4 linked regions of the Homo sapiens genome follow. The protein of the gene in region 1 purifies or fractionates together with the protein of each later gene. This does not show direct contact. Each region holds a gene or a part of one and is shown in the gene's direction. Other genes may lie near its edges. The genes, in order: CAPN2, CCZ1B, AFG2B and MYO9A.

Evidence for each region.
Region 2: the proteins of CAPN2 (region 1) and CCZ1B purify together in Homo sapiens (co-immunoprecipitation; 2 studies listed by IntAct). This does not show direct contact.
Region 3: the proteins of CAPN2 (region 1) and AFG2B purify together in Homo sapiens (co-immunoprecipitation; 3 studies listed by BioGRID and IntAct, with this or other methods). This does not show direct contact.
Region 4: the proteins of CAPN2 (region 1) and MYO9A purify together in Homo sapiens (co-immunoprecipitation; 2 studies listed by BioGRID and IntAct, with this or other methods). This does not show direct contact.

Annotation. Positions count from the first base shown.
Region 1 is NC_000001.11:223,707,607-223,715,560, forward strand, and holds the start of CAPN2 (calpain-2 catalytic subunit), read left to right. Parts: upstream 1-4,932; 5' UTR 4,933-5,034; coding exon 5,035-5,271; intron 5,272-7,954. UniProt on the Homo sapiens protein: Calcium-regulated non-lysosomal thiol-protease which catalyzes limited proteolysis of substrates involved in cytoskeletal remodeling and signal transduction. Proteolytically cleaves MYOC at 'Arg-226'.
Region 2 is NC_000007.14:6,798,430-6,802,303, reverse strand, and holds the end of CCZ1B (vacuolar fusion protein CCZ1 homolog B), read left to right. Parts: intron 1-780; coding exon 781-939; intron 940-1,228; coding exon 1,229-1,356; intron 1,357-3,024; coding exon 3,025-3,080; 3' UTR 3,081-3,367; downstream 3,368-3,874. Other genes in the region: RSPH10B2 (radial spoke head 10 homolog B2), read right to left, coding at 3,761-3,874.
Region 3 is NC_000015.10:45,412,316-45,419,350, forward strand, and holds part of AFG2B (ATPase family gene 2 protein homolog B), read left to right. Parts: intron 1-2,255; coding exon 2,256-2,465; intron 2,466-3,271; coding exon 3,272-3,464; coding exon of another isoform or gene 3,465-3,490; exon of another isoform or gene 3,491-3,590; intron 3,591-4,953; coding exon 4,954-5,084; intron 5,085-6,241; coding exon 6,242-6,367; intron 6,368-7,035. UniProt on the Homo sapiens protein: ATP-dependent chaperone part of the 55LCC heterohexameric ATPase complex which is chromatin-associated and promotes replisome proteostasis to maintain replication fork progression and genome stability.
Region 4 is NC_000015.10:71,821,765-71,828,159, reverse strand, and holds the end of MYO9A (unconventional myosin-IXa), read left to right. Parts: intron 1-133; coding exon 134-276; intron 277-1,116; coding exon 1,117-1,580; 3' UTR 1,581-5,869; downstream 5,870-6,395. UniProt on the Homo sapiens protein: Myosins are actin-based motor molecules with ATPase activity. Unconventional myosins serve in intracellular movements. Regulates Rho by stimulating it's GTPase activity in neurons.

The DNA of each region.
Region 1 (7,954 bases):
ATTAAATTTGGGTGGCATAGGACAGCCTAAAGCCCTTTGTAAGCAGAGCTCTATGTGCGCAGCGATCCCTAGAAGGCTGGCAAGGGGAGTGGCCAGGGCTGCACCAAAGAGGGTGTTGCCTAGCTGGGGAAGAGGAACTTCAGGTGAGCCAGGAGGCTCTTCTGCTCCCAGGCTGTGCAAAGCTTCTGAGTTGACTGGAATGATAGGTCTGATCTGCCCATTTGTTGCTAAAATGACTTAGGAGGGAAATGACCTCCACCTGCCTGGGAGGAGTCACTTCCTCCAGAGATGAGCTGTCCTTGAGGAGATCAGTGGGAGGAGAAGCCTGCGCTCTGCCCCACTGGGCAGAAGGACAAGCTTTCTCCCAAGAGCCTCGAGCCCAGAAGAAGTCGGGGTGGGGCCAATGGAAATCAGACAGTGGAACAAATGAACAGCTTCCAGGACAGGGCTGTCGCTTTCCTCTGTTTTCAATTGTGATGGCTTCATGAAACCCTTGCACCAGAAACCCATGAGCTAGAAATGAATGCCTGTATCCCCATCTCTGGACTCAGAGTCCAGAGTGCCAACCATTACACAATGGAACCTGTGTCCCCGCCTTATTCAAGAGTAAAGAAAGCAAAGCCTGGTGGTGGACGGTGGTACCTGCCCATCAGGCAGCATGCCCAGACTTGCAAACCAGAGATGGAGGATGTCAAATAAAAACAAAACCATGGGAGACTGAGGCAGGAGAATCACTTGAACCGGGAGGCGGAGGTTGCAATGAGCCAAGATCGCGCCATTGCACTCCAGCCCGGGCAACAAGAGTGAAACTCTGTTTAAAAAAAAAAAAAAATCCAGACTTTTATAAAGGGACACTTCAATAGAAAGAAAGACTATTGCAGGCCAGGCGCAGTGGCTCACACCTGTAATCCTAGCACTTTGGGAGGCCAAAGCAGGTGGATCACCTGAGGTCAGGAGTTCAAGACCAGCCTGGCCAACATGAGGAAACCCCGTCTCTACTAAAAATACAAAAAAATTAGCTGCACATGGCGGCTGGTACCTGTAATCCCAGCTACTCAGGAGGCTGAGGCAGGAGAATCACTTGCACCCGGGAGGCGAAGGTTGCAGTGAGTGGAGATTGCACCACTGCACTCCAGCCTGGGCAACAAGAGTGAAACAAGAAAGAAAGAGCGAAAGAGAGAGAGAGAGAGAAAGAGAGAAGGAGAGAAGGAGAGGAAGGGAAGAAGGGAGGGAGAAAGAAAGAAAAAATAGAGAAAAAGAGAAGGAAGGAAGGAAAAGAAAGAAAAGAGAAGAGAAAAGAAAAAAAAAGAGAGAAAGACAATTCCAATTCAGAGAATCTGCAAGCAGCTCAAAATCAAACAGAAAAAGATTCTTCTTTTCTAGGGTAAAGGAGGAGCAAGTGGAGATAAGCAGACTCTTGGGAGGGGAAGCTGGACAAGTGAGGGGAAATGACCAGTGGGAGCTGACAGGAAAAGGGTCTTGCTGTGTTCAGTCAATTCCCAGGAGAAGCTGGGCAGGGAAGTGACTTGGCAGGGACACTCCACTTTGTTTGTGCTTGTTCAGGCTTGGGGGCAAGCAGCATTCAGGGATCTGTAGGAAAGAGAGAAGTCTGACCAAAGTTTTGTCAAGCAAAGGGGGTAAGCAATGGGTGTCAGAGACAAGAATAGATGGGGGCAGAGGAATAATAGTGACAAAAATACTTGCTTTAAGAAAAGGTAACATCATGGCTCTCATATTAGTATAAAATAAACACATTTTAAAGATTCCATTTCGGCAGGGTGCAGTGGCTCACACCTGTAATCCCAGCACTTTGGGAGGCAGAGGTGGGCAGATCACCTGAGGTCAGGAGTTCGAGACCAGCCTAGCCAACGTGGAGAAACCCTGTCCCTACTAAAAATACAAAATTAGCCAGGCATGGTGGCAGGCACCTGTAATCCCAACTACTCGGGAGGCTGAGATAGGAGAATCACTTGAACCTGGGAGGTGGAGGTTGTGGTGAGCCGAAATTGTGCCATTGCACTCCAGCCTGGGCCAACAAGAGTGAAACTCCATCTCAAAAAAAAAAAAGAGTCCATTTAACTTGATTAAACGAGGCAATCTGGTGGATGTTATAACTGGTTCAAAGGAGAAACCAAAGCAGCACAATTTACATGACGTGAAGAGTACTGAAATGGAATATGCAACTAGACAAAAAACTGGTCTCTCTACAGGGGGACTGTAGTGCCTCTACTGGACAGAATGCATTTGCATATCTATAGGAAAAATTATTTTCCATTGCTACAGTTATCTACAACTTAGATTACTTACTTAGAGTTACTTAGGTAACTATACATTGCTACAGTTATATACAACTTAGAGTTATAAAATAACTCAAAAACAATGAAAGGGGCTCGTGTGGTGGCTCACACCTGTAATCCCAACACTTTGGGAAGCTGAGGCAGGCGGATCACCTGAGGTCAGGAATTCGAGACCAGCCTGGCCAACACGGTGAAACCCCATCTCTACAAAAAATATAGAAAATTAGCCAGATGTGGTGGTGTGCACCTGTAATCCCAGCTACGTTGGAGGCTGAGGCAGGAGAATCGCTGGAACCCGGGAGGCAGAAGATGCAGTTAGCTGAGATCGTCAAGATCCTGTCACTGCACTCCAGCCTGGGTGACAGGGTGCTACATCTCAAGAAAAACAAAAACAACAACAACAACAACAAAAACAATGAAAGGCTAGACCCAGATCTTCTGGAAGGAGATGCTCTAAACCAGGGTTTCTCAGCCTCTACATGACTGATGTCTTGGACTAGATCATGTTTTGGGTGGAGAATGTAAACCAAAAATAAAATTCTAAGCCTCCCCCTCCCCTACCCCCGCCAACCATCTAAATGGATGGTTCCTCCTTAGCCGAGGCTCTTAAAATTTTAACCTGAAATTTTCAGGCCATGAAGGAAAGGCAAGGTCGGACATGCTTCATTATACCTCTCCAGCGTGAACATCAACCAGAGTTTAGGTCTGATAAGAAACATTTTACTGCCTGTTCACTCTGAAGCCTGCTAGCTAAAAGCTTCATCTATGTGATAAAACTTTTGTCTCCACAACCTCTTATCGCAACCCAAACATTCCTTTCTATTGATCCTGGGCCTTTAGACAAACTCAACCAATTGTCAACCAGAAAATGTTTAAATATTTACCTATATCCTGGAAGCCACCCCCACTACCCACCCACCACCCCCCGCCACTTTGAGTTGTCCCGCCTTTCTGAACCAAACCAATGTATTTCTTAAATGTACTTGACTGATGGCTCTTGCCTCCCTAACATGTATAAAACCAAGCTGCACCCCAACCACCTCGGGCACATGTCCTCAGGACTTCCTGTGTCACAGGTGTGCATCTTCAACCATGGCAAAAGAAACTTTCTAAATTAAATGAGACCTGTTTCAGATTTTCTGGGTTCACAAGAGCTATCTTGGACATTGGAAGATGTTCAGCGGCATCCCTGGCTTCTACTTAGTAAAGGCCAGTAGCACCTCATCTCCTAGCTGTGACCATAAAAACTATCTCCAGACATTCCCAAATGTCTCCTGGGGTGGGTAGGGGACAAAACTGCCCCCAGTTGAGAACCACTGCTGTAGACCATGCACAGTTTTCCAGTGAAACCCAAATTCTTCCCTACTACTGTAGAGAAGAAGAGGAGGTAATTTCTGCCCATCTGCATTTCTTGGCACGCACCCATGTCTCTGTGTGTGAGATGAGAATCACACCCTAGCTCCACAACAGAGTGGTCACAGTAGCCAACACAGGCAGTATTCTAAATGCTCTCTCCCTATAGTAACCCAACTAATCCTGCCAGTTAAATATGAGTTTCAGGTAAACAATGAATCATATTTTCTTTTAGAATAAGTATGTATGCCCATGCAATATTTGGGCCCTACATATACTTTAAAAGTATCTGTTGTTTATCTGAAATTCAAATTAAACATTTGGGAGGGTTGTTGTTTTATTGGCCAAATCATTTTATTTTATTTTATTTTTGATATGGAGTTTCGCTTTGTCACCCAGGCTGGAGCGCAGTGGCGCGATCTCGTCTCACTGCAACTTCTCCCTCCTGGGTTCAAGCGTTTCTCCTGTCTCAGCCTCCCGAGTAACTGAGATCACAGGTGCCTGCCACGACGTATTTTTAGTAGAGACGGAATTTCACCATGTTGACCAGGCTGGTCTCGAACTCCTGACCCCAGGTGATCCGCCTGCCTCCGGCCTCCCAAAGTGTTGGGATTACAGGTGTGAACTACCGCACCCAGCCTTATTGGCCAAATCTGACAACCCTATCTATAATCAAATAAACAGCTGAGCAGTAGTAATTGCAGCATTGTGATTGCAATAGGCCTCCGGTGGCTTAGAGTCCCTGTTCTGCCTGTGACTGTTGTGCCACATTGGGGACGTCATTTAGCGTCTCCGAGGCTCAGTTTTCTCATCTGTAAAATGGGGACAATATCAGCGCCTTCTTCAGAGTCGCTGGGAGGATTAAATGAGATGATGTATGCAGAGCCGTTAAGACGCTGTTTGGCACAAAGTTCAGGGCAGCTGGTTTAGTTTCCTCGACTTCACTACCTGACCCTCTGCTAACTCCCCGGGTGTTTTCCGGACGGCCACAACTATCCTAGCCTTCTTCCCTATGGGCTGCAAAGGTGGCCTCGGGTTCCGGTGGGAGCCCCAACTCTGGACCGCGATTCGCGAGCCTCCCCGGCGCCGGGCCGCGCCATCCCGGGAGCTGTCCGCAGATGGCAGCACCGGCCCCGGGTCGCGGCGTTCCCGGCGCTCGGCAGGCCGCAGGATGGCCTGGTCCCGGGCCGGGAGCCCAGCAGGCCGGGAGCGGCTGAGGCCACACCCCGCGGGCCGGGCCGCTTCCCTCCGGTGAATCATCGCTCGCAGCGGCGGCGCCCGCAGTGGCCGCAGCAGCGCGCCGGGCCCTGGCCGCGCCCCAGCCGAGCGCAGCGCGGAGTCGCCCCGACCTTTCTCTGCGCAGTACGGCCGCCGGGACCGCAGCATGGCGGGCATCGCGGCCAAGCTGGCGAAGGACCGGGAGGCGGCCGAGGGGCTGGGCTCCCACGACAGGGCCATCAAGTACCTCAACCAGGACTACGAGGCGCTGCGGAACGAGTGCCTGGAGGCCGGGACGCTCTTCCAGGACCCGTCCTTCCCGGCCATCCCCTCGGCCCTGGGCTTCAAGGAGTTGGGGCCCTACTCCAGCAAAACCCGGGGCATCGAGTGGAAGCGCCCCACGGTAGGAAGCGCGCGGCAGGACGCGGGCAGGGCGGGGTGCCGGGCAGGGCGGGGTGCAGGCCGGCCCGCGGCGCGCTGGGGCGGGGGGCAGCCCGGGTGCTGCAGTGGGGAAGCCGCAAGCCAGGACCTCGCAGTCCTGCGACACCTCCGCGCCGCCAGAGCCCGGGACTCTGTTCGAGCGTGGGGGGACTCCCGGGGCCTTCCCTCTCTTCCACCCACCACGCTTTCCTGGGCGGGTCGAGGCGAATCACTGCCCTCAGATCCCACTAGCAGGCCACTTTAGGACTTCACAAAAACTCAGGGTGATGCAGGAGGCCGGGGTGAAACTTTGATTGGACTCTAGCGGGGAGCTGGAAGGGAAGGGGAATCGGGTCTGCAGGGAAGGGACGGTGAGAGGCAGCATCTACCAGACAAAGTCCGTCTCCAACTGGGGTTCTGTCTGTTCATGGAGGGGGACAGGCCATAGCCTGGTCATTTTGTGACTAAGGATAGTCTCCTGCAGCCCTGGGGTTAGATTTATTTTTCCAAAGGGGAGCCAGCGATACCTCCTCATAACATTGACACTGGTAATTAACCCAGGACACGGAGGTGTCTCATGGTTTCCCTGGCGGGAATCACCCGGGAAACCTCCGGGAGCCCTCCAGACCCCCTTATCCCGTCCCCCAGGGTCTCTGACCTCCCGGCCCTGGGACAACTTGTGCTCCCCAATCTACTTGTCCATTCTGTTTCTTGGGGAACCCCTGAGGCTCCTCCTCCTTTGGGACACTTCCCCAGGCTTCCCCTACCACGCCTAGGAAAGCCTGCCCTGAAGTCCAACTTCTAGATTCCTGTTGTGAGAACAAGGCTTCCAGCTCTGCTTCCACACCCAGCAGCCTCCCAGGTCACCTTCTGTTACCCTAAATCCAGCCCATAGGTAGCAAGGGCTGCAGGAAGCGCCCTAGCCCAGACTCAGAGCACTTGGGTTCTTCTTCTTGCTAACCTGCTGGTGACCTTGAACGAGCCATTTAACCTCTCTGTGCCTCCATGTCTTCATCTAAAAGAAAACATGCTGCCTAAATATTTTCTCTCTTTTGTGGCCCACTAGGCCCTGCCGTCATGGCCTCCTTTCAGTCTCTCAAAGAGCCGGTTCTTTCCTGCATGAGGCCTTCTCACCAGCAAGGCACGCTGTTACCTGGAGTGTGGCTCACTCTCATTCTTCCCAACTTAGTCACATGTTCCCTTCCTAAAGAGGTCTTTTCTGACCCTTCTTAGCAGCCACCTCCCCACCTTGTTTTTCTCTGTCACCCCACTCATTTCCTTCATAGCATTGTCACAGTTTAGAATATAATCACATGTATTTGTTCTTCCTACTGAACTGCAGGAATCATGTGTATATTATTTACCAGTATATCCCCAGTGCCTGACACATAACCATGCCTTTCACAGTATTCATTCATTCATTCATTCATTCATTTACTCACTCATTTGACAACACTGATTGAGCACCTGTTACATGCCAGGCACTGTCCTGAGAGCTCAGGAGATACACCAGTGAACACAAAAGAAGTGACTGTTTGTAGAATATGGATGCAGGATTGTAATGTGCCTCAAATGAAATTATGGTTGTGAAAGTGATACGCTGACCTGACTCAGTGCCTCACACCTGTAATCCCAGCACTATGGGAGGCCAAGGTGGGAGGATCGCTTGAGCCAGGAGTTCAAGACCAGCCTGGGCAACACAGTAAGACTTGTCTCTATAAAAAAGTAAAAAAAAAAAAAAAAAAAGTGAAACACAAACCAAGAGAATGTGTTCACTTTACATTTGCATGGCACTTTACAGTTTACATAGTGAGTTCACATACTCATTCACTTATTCTTTCATTCATTCAGTAAGCATTTCTCGAATACCTACTATATGCTGGGCACAATGCATATGGTTTCTGCTTCTGAAGACTTACTTCTGAGGCTAGTGAGGGGACAGAGACAGGTCCCCCAACAGTTGGAAATGCCTGTGGGACTTCCAGATGAGGATGTAGAGGTCTAGAGATGATCTAGCGCCACTGCTTAGGGCAGGCGGGCTGTGCACTGCACAACTAAGGAAGAGTGTGACTTTTACGATCCCCATTTGCCAGTTGAAGAAATTGAGGCTTGGGAAGGTTAAATACTTGCTCAGAGTCAAGTGGATATAGGGCATAGATCCAGGACTGTGTGTAGTCTGTGCATGTTGAGCCTACCCCTTATGGCTGCGCTCTCTGCCTCCTTCCTACCTTCTCAAATGCTGCTGAGGTCAGGCAAGGGGAGCACAGTTGTTTCCGCTGGATTTGAACACTAGCAAGTCATTGGTGAGTTTAGCAGAGCAATTTCAATGGAAAGGTGAGAGTAGAAGCCAGATTGTTGTAGACTCCAGAGTAAAGGAACTGGAAATTAAGAACATGATCAACTTATTTAAGAAGGACCCCCGGGAAGAGAGGAGAACTGATAGGTAGAGTAGGACCTGGACTTTGAGAGCCTGTGTTTTTTTCATATGAGAACAACTTGAATGTGTCATATGTTGAATCACCAGGAAGAAGGGATTAAAGATAAAGGCAGGGAGGGGGCAGTGAAACAGGATCCCTGAGGAAGTGAGAATACGGGTTGTGGGCAGGGGAGGGGAGCAGGTTAGCCTTGCAGCAGGAGGAGCTGCTCTTCCTCGGAGAGAGGATTTC
Region 2 (3,874 bases), on another chromosome or scaffold:
CTGACCTGGGAGGCAGCGTCGTAGCACTGCCTAGTCAGTTTAAGAAATAAAAAGGTATATCCCATTTAAAATGTTCATCAGACTGCAGTGGAAAAGGCGACTGCGTTTTACAGTGATGTCCACTGGGGATGATATGAGGGAAAGCTTCGTTACATAGTGTCGTAGGCTTCCCTCATGAGGCAGGTTAATTTCCACGGGACACTCATTCCCCGCACTGTGGGAGGAACGAGGTGTTACTCTCCTCAAGCAGGGGTCAGCAGACTTTTACGGTAAAGGACCCAATAATAAGTATCTCAGATGTCACGGGCTATATGTAGATACGTGTTAAAACTACTCAACTATCATTTTGGTGGGAAAGCAGACAGACAGCACATGAACATGTGGCAATGGCGAGGTTCCCGTGAAACTTTGTTTAGAAAAAGAGGGCCAGGGCCGGGCGCGGGGGCTCACGCCTGTAATCCCTGCACTTTGGGAGGCCAAGGCGGGTGGATCACAAGGTCAGGAGATCGAGACCATCCTGGCCAACATGGTGAAACCCCGTCTCTACTAAAAATACAAAAATTAGCTGGGCGTGGTGGCGGGCGCCTGTAATCCCAGCTACTCAGGAGGCTGAGGCAGGAGAATCGCTTGAACCAGGGAGGCGGAGGTTGCAGTGAGCCGAGATCGTGTCACTGCACTCCAGCCTGGGCGACAGTAAGACTCCATCTCAAAAAAATTTTAAAAGAAGAATCTAGTTGTATCCGGCCCGAGTGCTACTGTCTTCGTGACATGTTTTCACAGGTCTGAGAAAGAACCCCAGTTTAAGTTTATCTACTTCAACCACATGAATCTCGCCGAGAAGAGCACAGTTCACATGAGGAAAACGCCCAGCGTGTCGCTCACTTCCGTGCACCCGGATTTAATGAAGATTCTCGGTGACATCAACAGTGACTTTACCAGGTGATTCCAGCCACTTCTCCAATCAGGCGTCCCCTTTCTAAGACGAGAAAAGACACAGAAAATCCCTTCAAGCCCTTTCCATGGGGTTCAAGCGTGAACCACCTTCATGGGCGCCGCTTCCAAACAGACCCGGGAGCCCTGAAGTCACCGGTTCCCTCGCGCGGCACTCCCTGAGCCTTTTAAATGCCACGTGCGCCCGTTCCATTTCCTGTTCTTGGTTTGGAACGCTTATTCTCACAGTCTGGCCGTATGAGTAACGAACAATTGCATTTTGACCCTCGTCTTGCAGAGTGGATGAAGATGAGGAGATCATTGTGAAGGCCATGAGTGATTACTGGGTTGTTGGAAAGAAGTCTGATCGGCGGGAGCTCTATGTTATTTTGAATCAAAAAAATGCAAACCTGATTGAAGTAAATGGTAAGTAGGATTTGGTATTTCAGGAGAATTTGAGAAGTTGTCTTTTCATTGCATTAAGAAACATGGTTAAAAAATAGGTAAATAGAACAAATCATGACTGTTGAGATTCTAAGCAGGTGCCTCTGCTCCACATTTGATCCATTTTCTGTTCCTTGGAAAACTATGACAAGACCTTCCTGTAGCACAGGAAACTTGGCAATGGCAGAAAGAAAATTATTTTCTACAATTCTAAAAAAAAAAAAAAATGACTTTATATTAAGAAATGTCCCCCTTTTTTTGGAGACAGGTTCTCACTTTGTCACACAGGCTGGAGTGCAGTGGTGCAATCATAGCTCACCACAGCCCCCAACTCCTAGGATCAAGCAGTCCTCCCACCTCAGCCTCTAGAGTAGCTGAGACCACAGGCATGTATCACCAAGGCATGTGTCACCAGACCCAGCTAATTTCTTTTTTTTTTTTGAAACAGAGTCTTGCTCTGTCGCACAGGCTGGGCTCAAACTCCAGGCCTCAAGTGATCCTCTGGCCTCCCAAAGAGCTGGGATTACAGGCGTGAGCCACCTTGCCCAGCCCAAAATGTCCTTTTTTAATATCCTGTGATAAAAACATATCTTTTGTAGGGAGAAGCTGCCGGGTTCACATAGCCGTTTACAAGTATCCCTCTGTACACAGGCAGAAGGAGGCAGACATTTTCTCCTGCCTTCCCGCCAAAGCGGCCAGCCTTGCCCACTGCACGGGGTGACCCGGCAGCTGCGGTGCTGATAGCTCGGCTGCCCTGGAGAGAGGGGACCTCACCTCGGCAGAGCTGCCCCCTTGGGAGATGCCCCACGTGTACACTGTGTGGAAATTCAGTGTAAGCGTTTTTTTCCCCTTGTATCTTGGGCATACTACATTTTTCTCTTTATTAGTAATACCTGTGTTAGTCATTGTGCGCACTAGAAACATCAGTTAATGCAAGCCTGATCTAAACTGTGAATGTGGTAAGATCAAAATCCTGACCCCTCTGCGGAGCACTTGGTCTGCAGCTCAAGGTTGCTGTCCGTTTCTTTGTTGTTCCATTAGTTGTCCCAGGATGACAACCTTGTGCTTGGTGTGTGTCACCAGCCTTGTGCTTCTAACCCCCTCCCCTGGGTGTCCCGGGCACTTTGCAGTTTCTCAGGCCCCGGGCAGCAGTGTTGATAGGCTCAAAACTCCTGAGGCCTGGTAGGTTTTGTAGGTGGATTTTTTCCCCTCTTCTACTTGTTAACATTTCTTGGCTGGGCACAGTGGTTCATGCCTGTAATCCCAGCACTTTGGGAGACCAAGGTGGGCGGATCACTTGAGGTTAGGAGTTCGAGACCAGCCTGGCCAACATGGCGAAACCCTGTCTCTACCAAAAAATACAAACATTAGCAGGGCGTGGTGGTGTGCACCTGTAGTCCCAGCTACTTGGGAGGCAGAGGCTGCAGTGAGCCAAGATCACACCACTACACTCCAGCCTGGGTGACAGAGCAAGACTCTGTCTCAAACAAAAAAAAAAAAAAAAAAATTCTTGCCTAGTCTTCTGGGATTTAAGGTCAAAATCAATGCAAATCTCTCTTCCTAATTTTACCCAAGAAGAATTTAATTATATATTATGTAACCTTTTAAGTGACTGCCTCTTCCTTCCTCACTGTTGTGTCCTTGTTGCAGAAGAGGTCAAGAAACTTTGTGCAACGCAGTTCAACAACATCTTCTTCTTGGATTGACGGATGACGGCTCACCGAGAGCATATCTAAAAAACACTCTGCAAACATTTGGTCACATGCAAGTTAGTGGTCATATGACGGACTGCATTCAGGACAAGGGTAAAGCAATACTTGCTTTGAAGAATCAGATTTCGACTCGGTCTGCTGATCTGAGGTTTTTAGATTTTAAATATTTATGTGGAATTAATTAAAGGTAGTTGGCTATATCGCTATCATTTCATTCTTTTGACATTATTTGAATATTTTACTGGAAAATAAGACTAATAAATTGTTAAAAGTTTTTAAAATTCTGGTTTGGTGTTGAGTCTCTCTCCTGCTGCCTATTTATAGATTACACTGGCCACCAGCTCCGTGACCCAGGCTGGAATGCAATGGCTCACTGCAGCCTCAACCTCCTGAGCTCAAGCAATCCTCCCACCTCAGCCTCCCAAGAAGCTAGAACCACATGTACACACCACCACGGTCGGCTGATGTTTTAATTTTGCAGAGATGGGGGGGTCTCACTATGTTGCCCAGGCTGGTCTCGAACTCCCGTAATCCAGCCATGTAGGAAACCTGAGATGCAGTGGGCCAAGGGGTATGTTAAAACACTGTGACGAGTTCAGTGCTAAGAACTGTAATGCTCAGGAAATCTTACAGCACGTGCCATCCTAAGCCTGTGTGTGTGTCCTCGTGTCTCTCTACTTTTTCTTCTTCTTGCTGGTGATGGTCTTGCTGGATGGGGACACGGTCACATCCTCCTTGGGAGGGTCCAGTATGAGGTGAGAGGATGACACGTCTGCCGGCTCCTTGAG
Region 3 (7,035 bases), on another chromosome or scaffold:
GCTTCAACCTAAGAGGCTGAGGTTGCAGTGAGCTGAGGTTGCACCACTGCACTCTAGCCTGGGACAGAGTGAGACTCCGTCTCAAAAAAAAAAAAAATTATAATCTAAAACGGGGGTCAACAGATTTCTGTAGAGAGAGCCACATAGTCAATGTTTTAAGCTTTGTGATCCACAGTCTCTGTCATAACCACTCACCTCTGCCGTTGTAGCACCAAAGCAGCTGTAGACCATATGTAAATTAGTAATTGTATTCTGATAAAAGTATAGACACTGAAATTATATAATTTTCACATGTCAGAAAATATTCTTTTGATTTTTTTTCAAGCATTTACAAATGTAAAAACTATTCTTAGTTTGGGCTGTACCAAATAAAGGTGGAAGGCCTTAGTTTGCCTGGATCTCTGATCTAAAAGACGTTAAATGGATGCAGTACAGGGACTGGTAAAAGCACAAAATTGAAATGAACAATATGGCTACCTGATAGTGGATTTCACAGTGGAAGCTGTGGGACGCAACTCTTCAGATCCTCTCACCTGCGTTACAGTTTCAGAAATTGATTTTGCCAATTCGCCTACATGTGATCCTGCCCTAATGAACTAGGTTTCTCTAACCACACACATAACAGACTGATATATAAGTAATAATTATAATTTATTCATCTTAACCAGGAGATCTATCTCCAGTGAACCCTAGAATTTTTGAGTCCATGGATAAGAGCATTTATAATATGCGCCAATATTTTTTATGCATTGTCTCATTTAATGTTCACAAGATGCATGAGAGAAATTAACCACACCTTCCTGTTGGAAGCACTCTGTTTCCTTAGCTTTGAGACATTAAGCTTTTCTGCCTTTCTGGCCACCCTCTCCCCTCCCTTAAATGTTAGTGCTCAAGAGGCTCCCAGAGTCCTCCTCTTGTTGGAGCTGTGGGTGATTTTATGATGATCTTGATGTCCACAGCATCCCTGAAAACTGTTGACTCAGAAATCTGTATATCTAGAGTAGACATTTCTTCTGATCATCAGAACTACTTCACTGCCTGCCTACTGGATAACCCCAGGGATGTCAAACTCAGCATGTAAAAAGTTCAGCTAGTCAGCTCTGCCCCCACACTTGGATTCCCTACCTCAGTTAATACAGCCAGCCACCCCATCCCCTAAGTCAGAAATCTGTCTTCTAAAGGCATAGCATCAGAACTTTGTCCCTATGTAAAGTACAATTCTGTTTTATGTTTCAAATATCCATCCCTTCCACACCATCTTCACTGCTTGTGACACTCCAGCCTTATTATTTTTGTAGGCTGAATCATTGCAAGAAACTTGTAGCTGGTCTCCCTGCCTCTAGTTTAATTTCCTTCCAGTCCATTCTCCATACTGCTTCCTCAGTGCAGACTAAAGCTTTCAAGGCCTATTGTGATCTGACTCCTACCTCCACTTCAACACCGTTGCTCCTTGCTGGTGCTCTTGAATTACATTGTCTGGGGTCAGTATTGGTTCTGCCACCTCATTAGCAGTAAGACCTAGGCAAATTACTTAACTTTTTTTAGGCCCGAGTTTTTTTGCATCTGTAAAATAATGATTAAAGTGGTTAAAAACCATTTACCTTAAAGGTAATGAGGACTCATTCATTATTCGGTTTACTGTTACTGAGTGCCTCCTTTGGGTAGGTGTCATTCTAGCTGCTGGGGATTTTGAGGTGAGCTTTGCTTACGTTCTAGCAGAGCAGAATGACAAACCCAACGTGGAAAAATAATAATAGTGAATACTTGCTTTAAAAGTAAAGGATGGGCAGTAGCATAGAGAGTGAGTAGGAGGAGGGGGTTCCGCTTTAACCAGGTAGTTAGGAAAGACTAACTCCAAGGAATTGACACCTGCGCTGAGACCTGAGTGATGAGGGATAGCCACACGAAGATCTTGGGGAACGTTCAGGCAGAGAGAAAAGCAAGGAAAGGCTCTGAGATGGGAACAAACTAAGTGTTTAGGAGACAGTCAGATTATATAAGGCCTTGTCAGCTGTGGCGAGTAAGGAGTTTGGATTTGGATTTTATTCTAGTTCTAATAGTAAATCATTGAAGGATTTTAAACAGGAAGTGGTATCACCTGATTCAAATGATAAGATCTCTGCAGTGTGGAGAATGGACTGTTTCCAGCTCATAATAGGAGGCTGAGAATTGTTAAATGAAGAAATGAATTTACTGGATGATATGACATTTTATTATTATACTAAAACAACTCTTCTCTTTTTGTGTACTTTCAGAGCATTGAGTGGCCTCTGAAATTCCCTTGGGAATTTGTTAGAATGGGCCTGACACAACCAAAGGGAGTTCTCCTCTATGGGCCCCCTGGATGTGCTAAAACCACTCTGGTGAGGGCCCTGGCCACAAGCTGTCACTGCTCTTTCGTTTCAGTGAGTGGAGCTGATCTGTTTTCACCGTTTGTTGGAGATTCAGAAAAAGTGTTGTCTCAGGTTTGTTTATTTCCCCATATGTTTAAATTTACTTTTGAATTTTTATTTCATTTCTTATGGACAAACCTTTTTAAAAATATTACTAGTGTTTTTTCCAGTTAAAAAATTTATACGTTTATTGAAAAATTTAGAAAATATAGGAAAGTGTAAATATGAAATCCTTCATAATCCTCCTACCTACTGTTAACATTTTGGTGAATTTCCTTTGTCTTTTTTTCTGTTTTAAATAAAATCAAAGGTAGGTTTTATATATCTATAGCTTTATCCTGCTTTTTTAAACTTAATATTACTACTTTTGAAATTTATAGTATTCTTTGAAAATATGGTTTTTAACTCTTACATAATACTCCATTGTTTCTTGTTTTATTTACTCATTCCCCAATTCATAGACATTCAGAATCTTTTTTATATCTATTTTAAAAATTATAAATAGTGGCCAGGCATGGTGGCTTATGCATGTAATCCCAGCACTTTGGGAGGCCAAGGCGGGTGAATAACTTTAGGCCAGGAGTTCAAGACCAGCCTGGCCAACGTGGCAAAACCCCGTCTCTACTAAAAATACAAAAAAATTAAGTGGACGTGGTAGCGCACCCTATAATCTCAGCTACTCGAGAGACTGAGGCACAAGAATTGCTTGAGCCTGGGAGGCAGAAGTTGCAGTGAGCTGAAATCGCATCACTACACTCCAAACTGAGCAACAGAGCAAGACTGTCTCAAAAAAAAAAAAAAAAACAGGATTATAAATAGTAATATCACATGACTAATGTATAACATATAGCTTTTTAATATTTTTTTCCTAACAAAAGATATTTCGACAAGCAAGAGCAAGCACTCCAGCAATTTTGTTTTTGGATGAAATTGATTCAATCTTGGGAGCTCGCTCAGCCAGCAAGACAGGATGTGATGTTCAAGAACGAGTTCTTTCTGTTCTCCTGAATGAATTAGATGGTGTTGGACTTAAGACAATAGAGAGAAGAGGAAGTAAATCAAGTCAACAGGGTAAATACAAGGAGCTGAAAAAATGAAGAGGTATTTATTAGCCAGAATGCACCTAAAATCCAGGCCAACATTAAATATAATGCATATATGCTATAGCTTTACCTATGCTGAATTCATCTCATAGAAGGATTTATATAATTTCAGTTTGACTTTGTTAGGACTTTTAGAGCTAATAAAAATTGTGATTTGGCTAGGAAAGGTGAGGTACATTTTATAATAAATTATCTTAAATATAAGAATGTGAATTTTATTTTTCCTAAGAATGAGAAATATAATTTTACTTATTGCTAATAGAGAAGGCAGTTTATTCTTGTTTGCATGTCCTAAAAACCAGTATTCATTTCTTTCTAAAAATGTTTATGTAGACTGGGCACAGTGGCACACGCCTGTAATCCCAGCACTTTGGGAGGCCAAGGCAGAAGGGTTGCTTGAGGCCAGGAGTTTGAGACTAGCCTGGCCAACATAGCAAGGCCCCATATCTGAATGAATGAATGAATGAATGAAAAACAAAGGAGATTATTATTTCCAATAGTCTTAGTAATGGAACATTTCCAGTTTTCTTGAGGAATGAGTTTCTTTGGTTTTAATGAATTAAAATGGCCTTTGGAAGTCCCCTCCCTCTTTCTGAGTCTCTTCTCCAGATGAGTTTGGTATCCTTAAATTGTCCCTGATACTTTTTCTTTTATTCCTCTCTCGTTCTCATTCTTTTCCTATTTTAAAAATTGTCATATGGAATTGTTGCATACACTCCTTAGGAATATGTCACACTAGAATTAGGAGGTATCCACGAGGTTATCTAATCAAATCATTTCAAAATGCAGGAATTCCTTCTATAGCATCTGACAGGTATTCACCCAGCATCTGCTAAAATACTTGCAAATATAGGGAACTTTGTACTTTGAGGGATTACGTCACTGGAGAGCTGCCTGATTATTCAACAAATGATTTTGAATGCTTAGTATATGTAAAGCCTTTCTCTGTCTGCTTTTAGACATTTCTTTATCCAGGATTTGCGCACCTGCAACTTAGATTGTCATTTCAAAGAAAAATAAAAGGTCGAGTAAATCTTCCTCTTTAGGGATATGAGAGTCAAGACTTTCTGTAGCCATATATCTCCACCGGTTGGTCATAAGTATCTGTCTTTTTAAGTAGCCTGTTTAAGGTGTAAGCCTTCATTGGAGGCTCAGGTGCACTCAAGTCACCAGATGAGTGTTCTCCCCTTTGGGATAAGGCTTTTCATAGGTTCTCATATGGAGAATGTTTCTCTTAGCTACTCCCTTAGCCATGCACACAAAGTAGCTCTTTGGTTAATGATTTGTTTCTGGGATATCTTGATATCAAGAAGCTGGTCTGGAAAGCGGATATAAGCATTCTGGTCCCAAGAAAAGGATATCCCTATTTGAATTTAAATAGACCTTCTGATTTATAATTTTTAGAAAACTTATTAACAACTGATTGACATTACTTTGTGTTGTGTGTTTGCCCTCAGAGTTTCAAGAAGTTTTTAACCGAAGTGTCATGATTATTGCAGCAACAAATAGACCTGATGTGTTAGATACTGCTTTGTTACGACCTGGAAGATTAGATAAGATCATCTATATCCCACCTCCAGATCACAAGGTAGTCATTTACACATTTACTCTGTGTGAGCTCAGCAGAATTGAATTCCAACTTGGATATAGGTGTCCATGGTGTTCTACTTACCCTGGGTTCCGCCTTCTTCCTTGCCTGGTGGCCTTTCATGACATCATAATTTTGATCTTCCTTTGTTGGATACTCTGATCTTGTTCACAGAGAAACATAAGCCTAAATATATGGTGGTTATTTTTTGTGTTGTGGCAGACTCTAAATACTGAGTCTACTCAGCGTTATTTTGCAACTAGAGTGGAGGAATCCTAAAGTGTTAAAAGGGCTTTGAAGATTGAGTCAGCATCCTTATCATACAGTGCAGAAGTCTGAAATTACAGAGATTATGCAGTGTATCGTGGTCAACCAGTAAATTTGTTGTCCGTAAAGTACGGTGCAGAAATCTGAGATTACAGAGATTATGCAGTGTATCATGGTCAACCAGTACATTTTTTGTCGTTAACATCCAGAGCCACTGACAGGGAGGGTGAAAGGCACAGAGTGAATTTTTTTGTTCCTTGGGCTTTTATCAAGTTTTGAAGGGATAGAAAAATAAAATTTAATATCTATTATACCTTTAAGTTGTATCTGATAATTCATGTATTTGCTTCTTAAGCCATGTCTGATAGTATTATTTGTACCCAAGAGAGAGATTTAGCCGGGCGTGGTGGCTCACATCTGTAATCCCAGCACTTTGGGAGGCCAAGGCGGGTAGATCACCAGAGGTCAGGAGTTCGAGACTAGCCTGGCCAACATGGTGAAACCCCATCTCTACTAAAAATACAAAAATTAGCTGGATGTGGTGGCAGGCGCCTGTAATCCCAGCTACTTGGGAGGCTGAGACAGGAGAATCACTTGAACCCGGGAGGTGGAGGTTGTAGTGAGCCAAGATCGTGCCAGTGTACTCCAGCCTGGGTGACAGAGCGAGACTCCATCTCAAAAAAAAAAAAAAAAAAAAGATTCATAAGTTTTTTATGATGTCGTTATTTTTACCATTGTCATATAAGCCATTGATGACTTAGTCTTTCTAACCCCTATATATATTTTCTCGGTAATGTGAAAGGAAACTCAAGCTAAAAATATTTTAATAAATCATTGTGTCAAACATAAATGTTATAAGATTTAAAATACTGTTTTTTATTTTGTTCCAGGGCAGGCTTTCTATTTTAAAAGTCTGTACAAAAACCATGCCAATAGGGCCTGATGTCTCCTTAGAAAACCTCGCAGCAGAAACCTGTTTTTTTTCTGGAGCTGATCTTAGAAACCTCTGCACAGAAGTAAGTTAATTATTGAAGAAATTTGTGGTTCAAAACATTTCTGCATCTTTTCAAATCTTCATTCACTCAGCAGTATTTACTAAAAGCCTGTGTGGTACCATGTGATGTGAAACAGACAGATGTGGCCCCATCCCTCACACAGCTTATTGTAAGTGTGGGGTGGTGAGGAGGGTGGTGCAGAGAGGCAAATCTTAATACTGAGTTGGCAATTGAAAATATGTAGTGAGTTGCGGAAGTAGAGGGTACTGTGGGAGCACCTAGGAAAGACACCAGCCCAGATTTGGCACATCAGAGAAGGCTTTCTGAGAAAGGAGATGTATAAACTGAAATTGGAAGGACAAATCGGGAGTTAGCCAGCTAAGAAGGGAAGGGGGAATGTTTGAGGTGGAGAGAATAAAATGTGCAAAGGATTGAAGATAAGAGATGGTGTGACATTATTGAATCTTAGAGTGGAGAATGGCAAGAAATAAAGCGAAAGAAGTGGGCTAGGCGTGGTGGCTCGTGCCTGTGATCCCAGCATTTTGGGAGGCCAAGGCGAGAGGATTGCTTTAGCCCAGGAGTTTAAGATCAGCCTGGGTAATACAGTGAGACCCCATCTCTAGAAAAAATAAAAAATTAGTCAAATGTGGTGTTAGTCCCAGCTACGTGGGGGACTAGTAGTCCCAGCT
Region 4 (6,395 bases), on another chromosome or scaffold:
CACCTGGATGGGGACAGTAAAAATGGACTCTCTTTGCTTCTTAGATTCCTGACTTCCATGGAGGATCTTTTTTTCTGTTATCTTCCTTCCACTTCCTATCAAATGCTAATGGTTTCTTGATTGTGTCTTACAGGGAGGAGCTAACATTTGAGATGCTTGTACTGGAACCCCGTGCCTCTGATGATGAAACCCTTGAGTCTGAGGCCTCCATTGGGACTGCTGATAGCTCAGAGAATTTGAATATGGAGTCTGAATATGCTATCTCTGAGAAATCAGGTAAGTGAACATGGTAGACCAAAGACTCCAGATTTGTTTTGCAAAGGAGGAATAAAGATTCCAAAACTAAGACAAAGTCTTTTAAGAATTTACTGACTGTACATCAGCAATAACAAAGTCTTGAGGAATTTTGTCCTTTTATCCATATAATTTTAGCCTTCATCGTTTGGCATACAGGTAGTGACCTGGATGGGGATAAGAAATATAAGGGGATAAGAAATATAATTGTCTTTGCTACTTAGATTCCTGACTTCCACGGAAGGTCTTTTTTTTCCTGTTGTCTTTGTAAAGCTTCCATATACATTGTTTATCAAACCAACTCTTCAACGTGATTGAGTTTTTTGTTTTTTGTTTTGTTTTGTTTTGTTTTTTGGTAATTTAATGTTTTATCCTGTACTTACCACAGAGAAAAGCCAATAATCACAATATATGTTGTCTTACTGACCCATAACCCATTTTCTGAGGGTGGCAGGCATTGTGCCCCCACTGTGAGGTGGGACTATATACATATACAAAGGAGGTGTTTAACTGGGTGGCATGTCTCAGGGAGATGTAGGACTTACCTGCATATCCTGGCAGTTTTTGAAATGATAGTGACTGTTCTAGGCCTCCGCTGATGGCATAGTCAAACACCAGATTTCCTTGGAGATGATTCGGAAATGCTACATAGAGAAATGGATGGTGAGCTCTTACTGTGACTGTGCCCATAGTAAGTCATCCTGGACCCTCTGAATCTTATCCCACCCAATTTCATGTGTGAACAGTGGCATCTATTCATTATATGATGATTTGCTTTAGAGGGCACTGTCATTTACATCTTTGGTCTCTTTTTTGCATTAGAAAGAAGCTTAGCCCTTAGCTCCCTGAAGACAGCTGGCAAGTCTGAACCTTCCAGCAAGTTGCGAAAGCAACTTAAAAAGCAGCAAGACTCTTTAGATGTCGTGGACTCTTCGGTCTCCTCTTTATGTCTGTCTAACACGGCATCATCTCATGGGACCAGAAAACTATTTCAGATTTATTCCAAATCTCCATTCTACCGAGCTGCCTCAGGTAATGAGGCCCTGGGAATGGAAGGACCATTGGGCCAGACCAAATTCCTGGAAGACAAGCCTCAGTTCATCAGCAGAGGAACCTTCAACCCGGAAAAGGGCAAACAAAAATTAAAGAATGTGAAAAACTCACCTCAGAAAACCAAAGAGACCCCAGAGGGGACAGTCATGTCTGGCCGCAGAAAAACTGTGGACCCAGACTGCACCTCCAACCAACAGCTAGCACTCTTTGGAAATAATGAATTTATGGTCTGAACCGGCAGATGTGTGTCCCTCCGTGGCTACAGAGTGGTAAACAAATCTCACCTTTGGGGCTGCGTTTCATCACCTCGTCCACAATAGTCAATCCTAATTGTGGTCCTGCCTCTTTTCTAAGCATATGGCTAAGACTGTATGTGCTGAATTCCTGGGCCTCCTGCAGAAGCAGAAAGCCTGCTGGGGATGGTGCCAGCTGTGCCTTGGCTGTTGTATTTGAATTGAGATTTTTACTATACAAAGCCACCTAGGGCCTGGGGATTTGGGTCAGTTGTAGTTGCCTCTCCCCCACCCTCTTTTCCCTTCCCAAAGGTGGGTGTTGAACTAGGGGGGATATTGCTGTCCTGAGGGACCCTCTCATTTCTGACATTTGAAGAAAACGTATAAATCTTTCTTAACCGTGAAAGCAAAAGCCTTTGGGTTTATTTTGGGATAGTTAGGAGCTAGGGTAGAATATAATTTTTTTCCAAAAACTTACTTACAAACAAAAAGCCTAATCCCTCTATTTTAAGATTTCTGAAAAAACACTCCATGTTATATTCTGGGGAAAGCAAAAACAAAAAAAAAAAACAAAAAAAAAAAAACAAAAAAAAACCGTGATTGTTTCCATTAAGCCATCAGAGCGTGTCTCAGATATCTTGTTATACAGTGAAGAAGAGAATACCTATTTTTTTTGATGATGTTTGATGTCATAGTAATCAGTGCTGGTTTAACTCCTGTTTAGTTCCTGCCAAATACATTGCATGGGCTGAAGTGTCAGTAGCCATACTGTTCTCATGTTTCTTGGTCCTAGGATCAGATTCTTCTACATTATTTTTTAGTTTCCCAGAGACATGGTGATCCCTAAACTTATGAAGGTTTCATCCTAAGCCATTCAGGCTTTTCTCTTTGTATAGATTAAACCGAAAACCGCATATGAGCCTGTTCATCTGCTGGTGGATTCCCACCACAGACTCAGACTCAAACAAACAAACAAATAATGTGACCGTTTAGTTAGTTTCCAAAAACATTCACATACAATATTGCATGAATAAGTAAGTAAGTGTTACAGAAAGCTGCCAAAAAATAAAAAGGTTTTTAATATGACCTATCTAACTAACTAACTTTTATCTTCCTTTTCTCAGACTATCAGTATTAAATAGATGGAAAAAAATCAAGGACTACTTGAAGCTATTTTTGTTAATATTCTGGTTACTGAAGTTTATTGTAAATATGTATGTATAGTAGGCATATTTCTTTTTAACCTTGTGCTTCCCTCCTTCCCATGGAATTTCTTCCCACAGATGAGGGGCCACTGGACAGGGGGATGAGAGCCATTCGTCCCTGGGTTGAGGGAATTAGTAAGACATCATTTTCACCACTGGGTGGTCTTCATACACATGAGTTATAATAGCATTTTAAGTATCTTAGCATTTGTGGGATTAGAAATCTGTTTTTGCTATTTATAATATATAAAAAATGAAACATGATAGCCTTTCTTGAGATAAGTATGTGAAATGTTTATTTTTAAAGTTACTAAATGCATCTTGTCTTGCTACTACATGCACTGCTCTGAAAAAGAGCCTTTACCATCTATAACCTGTATTTTGGGTATTCTTCCTTTTCATACTTCTTTGAAGTTGTGGAAATATTAAGTCTTTTGTTAAGGCAGAGTCTCTCTCTCCTGTTACACAACACTGAACCTCACGCCACTGCCTCAGTGGTTATTGGCCAGCCCCAGAGGTTAGACTTGGAGCATAATTCTGAGTGGCAGCTAAAGGTAGCAGGAGTCTTACCTCTCCCTACTTTGGGTTCAGAATTGAGCCAGAGAAAGGAAGCCATTAAAATCTCCAGAATAATGATAGTTAATGAGCAAATGTTATGCTTTATATCCCACAGACATCTGCCACCTTGTTCATCTTGTCCTGAGGAGTAATAAATAATGTTAAGCTTTTAAAAATCTGAATTTCAGAGAATCTCCTAGAGGATAGAGGAAAACCCCTCAGCATGGTGTGTTAGAGTGGGATTGCTGGTTCCTCAGCCCCGTGCCAGGTTGCACAGTCTGTGTTTCAGTGTTCTTGGGAGAGTAGTGTACTGCTGGGCATTAATTGTTACTCTGCACTTGCTCCAGAATGTTGGTTAAATCCTGTATGAAAAAAAGAGATTGCCCTTATGGAATAATTTCCTGTGGCCCAGAGGAATGGCCAGAAGAACATATGTTGGCACATGTTCTTCCTTCTAAATCTTTGTGGGGCTTTTTTGGCAAAATAAGTTTTTTGGCAGTTAAAAAACGACTGATGTAGGTCACTTTAAAGGAACTAGGTGATGGATGTTAAGAGACTTTATAATTTTTCTCAGGGACCTGAAACTCCAGTTTGGATAAAATTCAATTAAAAAAACTTGTTTTTTCAGTTGCTAGATTTGTGGATTTCTAGTAATTTAATCTGCCAGGATTGGGGTGGGTGGGTGAGGAGGAGAGAGCCACAAAATGATAAGAGTGGAGAGCAGTGTGGGGCCCTCCCTTTGAGGGAAAGCCGTTGTTTACATAGGGTAGTAGGCCTTGTTGGCCTGATCAAGAGATGAAGCCATAACTCTTAAAAACCTTCAGAACCAAACGCTGTGTCTGCATCCATCTGTTCTCACTGGCCCTCTGCATGGTAAAGTTATGTCACCACAAAGTGATGCCGCATTACAATCACTTATGAAACTGTTAGCCCTTAATATGCATCACATTTGTGGTTCCATAGTGCTTCTCCTTTGCTTGTTTGATCTCTGCATGGCAGCAGTGGGGCAGCTCCACATTTGGAGCCCATACTCCAAAATGCAGAGCACTCTTCTCACAGCACACATTCCCAGCCCCAAACAAAACCTGAATTTTCAACTCTGCCCATTAAAGTGAATGTATCCCTGTAATTTAGTATGTACTTATTATGGAAAATGTAACAAAAGCAGAGAAGTGTGATTTCATTCTGTATCACAAATTGAAGCAAATCAACAGCAAATACAGCAGGATTCAGGGAGGCTTAGTTTACAACGTACTTTGTACCTCCTGCCATTTAAATTATTTTGCCACTCTGGGCTTCTGAAAACACAAAGGGAGATACAGCCCTCCAACTATGAGCCTTGCAGAGAGAGACAAAAGGGCCAGAGGTCCTGGGATGGAATACTAGAGCCCCCACCTTCTCATGCTTTGGAAACCTGCCAGAGCACTTACCCTGCTGGAAGATTAATGAAGACTCCATTCTGTGTTTCATAACAGTAGCGTTGTTTTCTCCATCAAAAACAGAGGGTCACAGAAATGTGCTGAAAAGATGTGGTCCAGCAAGGTTCTGTAGTCCCACCTCAGTGCCTGTGGGCTGTGTTTTTCACTGTAACAAGCACTTTGGTAAACTAGAAAGAAGAAAGGATTCTCAGGATGTGTTCAAAGCTAAGAGAGTTTTCATTTTAAAAAGAAACATACATACTCACTCCATGGCTTTCCTCATCCTCCTCTCTTTTTTCTTCTTGGTGGGAAGCTGGATGCGGGGCATGCATCATTCTGTATGGACAAATGTGTTATGTCCACCCATACTCTTGTGACAACTCCCCAGCACTGTCCTGCAATACCATGCTGGCCTTGGTAGTAAAACTCCTTGGTATCTGTGAGAGTCCTCTTTTTCTATGCCCTAGACTACTTTTAACCACTTTTCTCTGGAATGACTCCCACATTTGATTGGGTATTGAAAGGGTAACAGCAAAATGATGATTGTGGAGATGGATCTATTAGGTCTCATGTTGGTCCCCTGGTTGAAACTATTTTCAAAAAAGCCCCAACAATGGGCCTGTCACCTTGCTAGTCATCCATTCTTAATGCCTATTTATCAGCCCTCTGAGGTCATATAAAAGTTGCACCTTTTGAACCAAGTATTTGTATTTACTATGGGAAAGGTGTGGACTACAGATTCGTATTATATTATTTTAATGGATTTTAAGTAATTTATAAGTATGCTGAGTGTAAATTTTTTTTAAAAACTGTATTATAAAAGGACATATCCTGTGAAATATAACATTTTACTGTTTAATAGAATAATTCTATAAGAAGAATGATTTATCTCACCCACGGAACTGATTACATTCCGGATGCAATCAATAGGCACTTTGTAATTTCCTTTTTGTTTTTTTTTCTTTGCTGGGGGGTTGAGGGGTAACAAGATACCATCTGTATAAAGTGCAGTTTGTGTCACTCAAAATATGCACTGTATGGCTACACAAAAGCAGCTTGATGAACAAATCACCCCATGGCTCATTAAAGAACAAAGCTTCCAGAAGCAGCAATATGTGTGGTTTGTTTTCCAACCATCCTGGCTCCCACTCCAACTATTCCAACCCAACTCCAAGAAACAGCAGTGACTTCTTAGTTACACTGATGTGTTTTCAGGAAAGGACTCAACCCAAAGTTGACAAAGCACAGAGGTGGTAGTCACTGGAACTCAACTGAATTCAAGTGAAGGTGTGATTCAAGGTGTCGTTTTTTCTGTAGTGGATGCAGGCTGCTGGCTGTCAAGACTTCATTTAATCGGTTTAAGGCTAGAAGGGAGGAAAAGCAGTAAATCTGCATTTAGGATCCTCCCCTAAATTGGCCACTTGAAGAAGTTGCTAATAGAGGTTGCCAATAGAGGGCCCAAGGATTCTCACTGAAATTCAAAGCAACACATTGCAATAGGAACAGAAATTTTAACTCAGTTTGTCATTTTTGTTCTGCTACCAACTTTACTGCATGTCTGGGAAAGGCATTCGCTCTCTCTGAATGTTAGTTTTCTTATCTGGAAGTCAGTTCTGTTTCCCAAACTCCCAGCT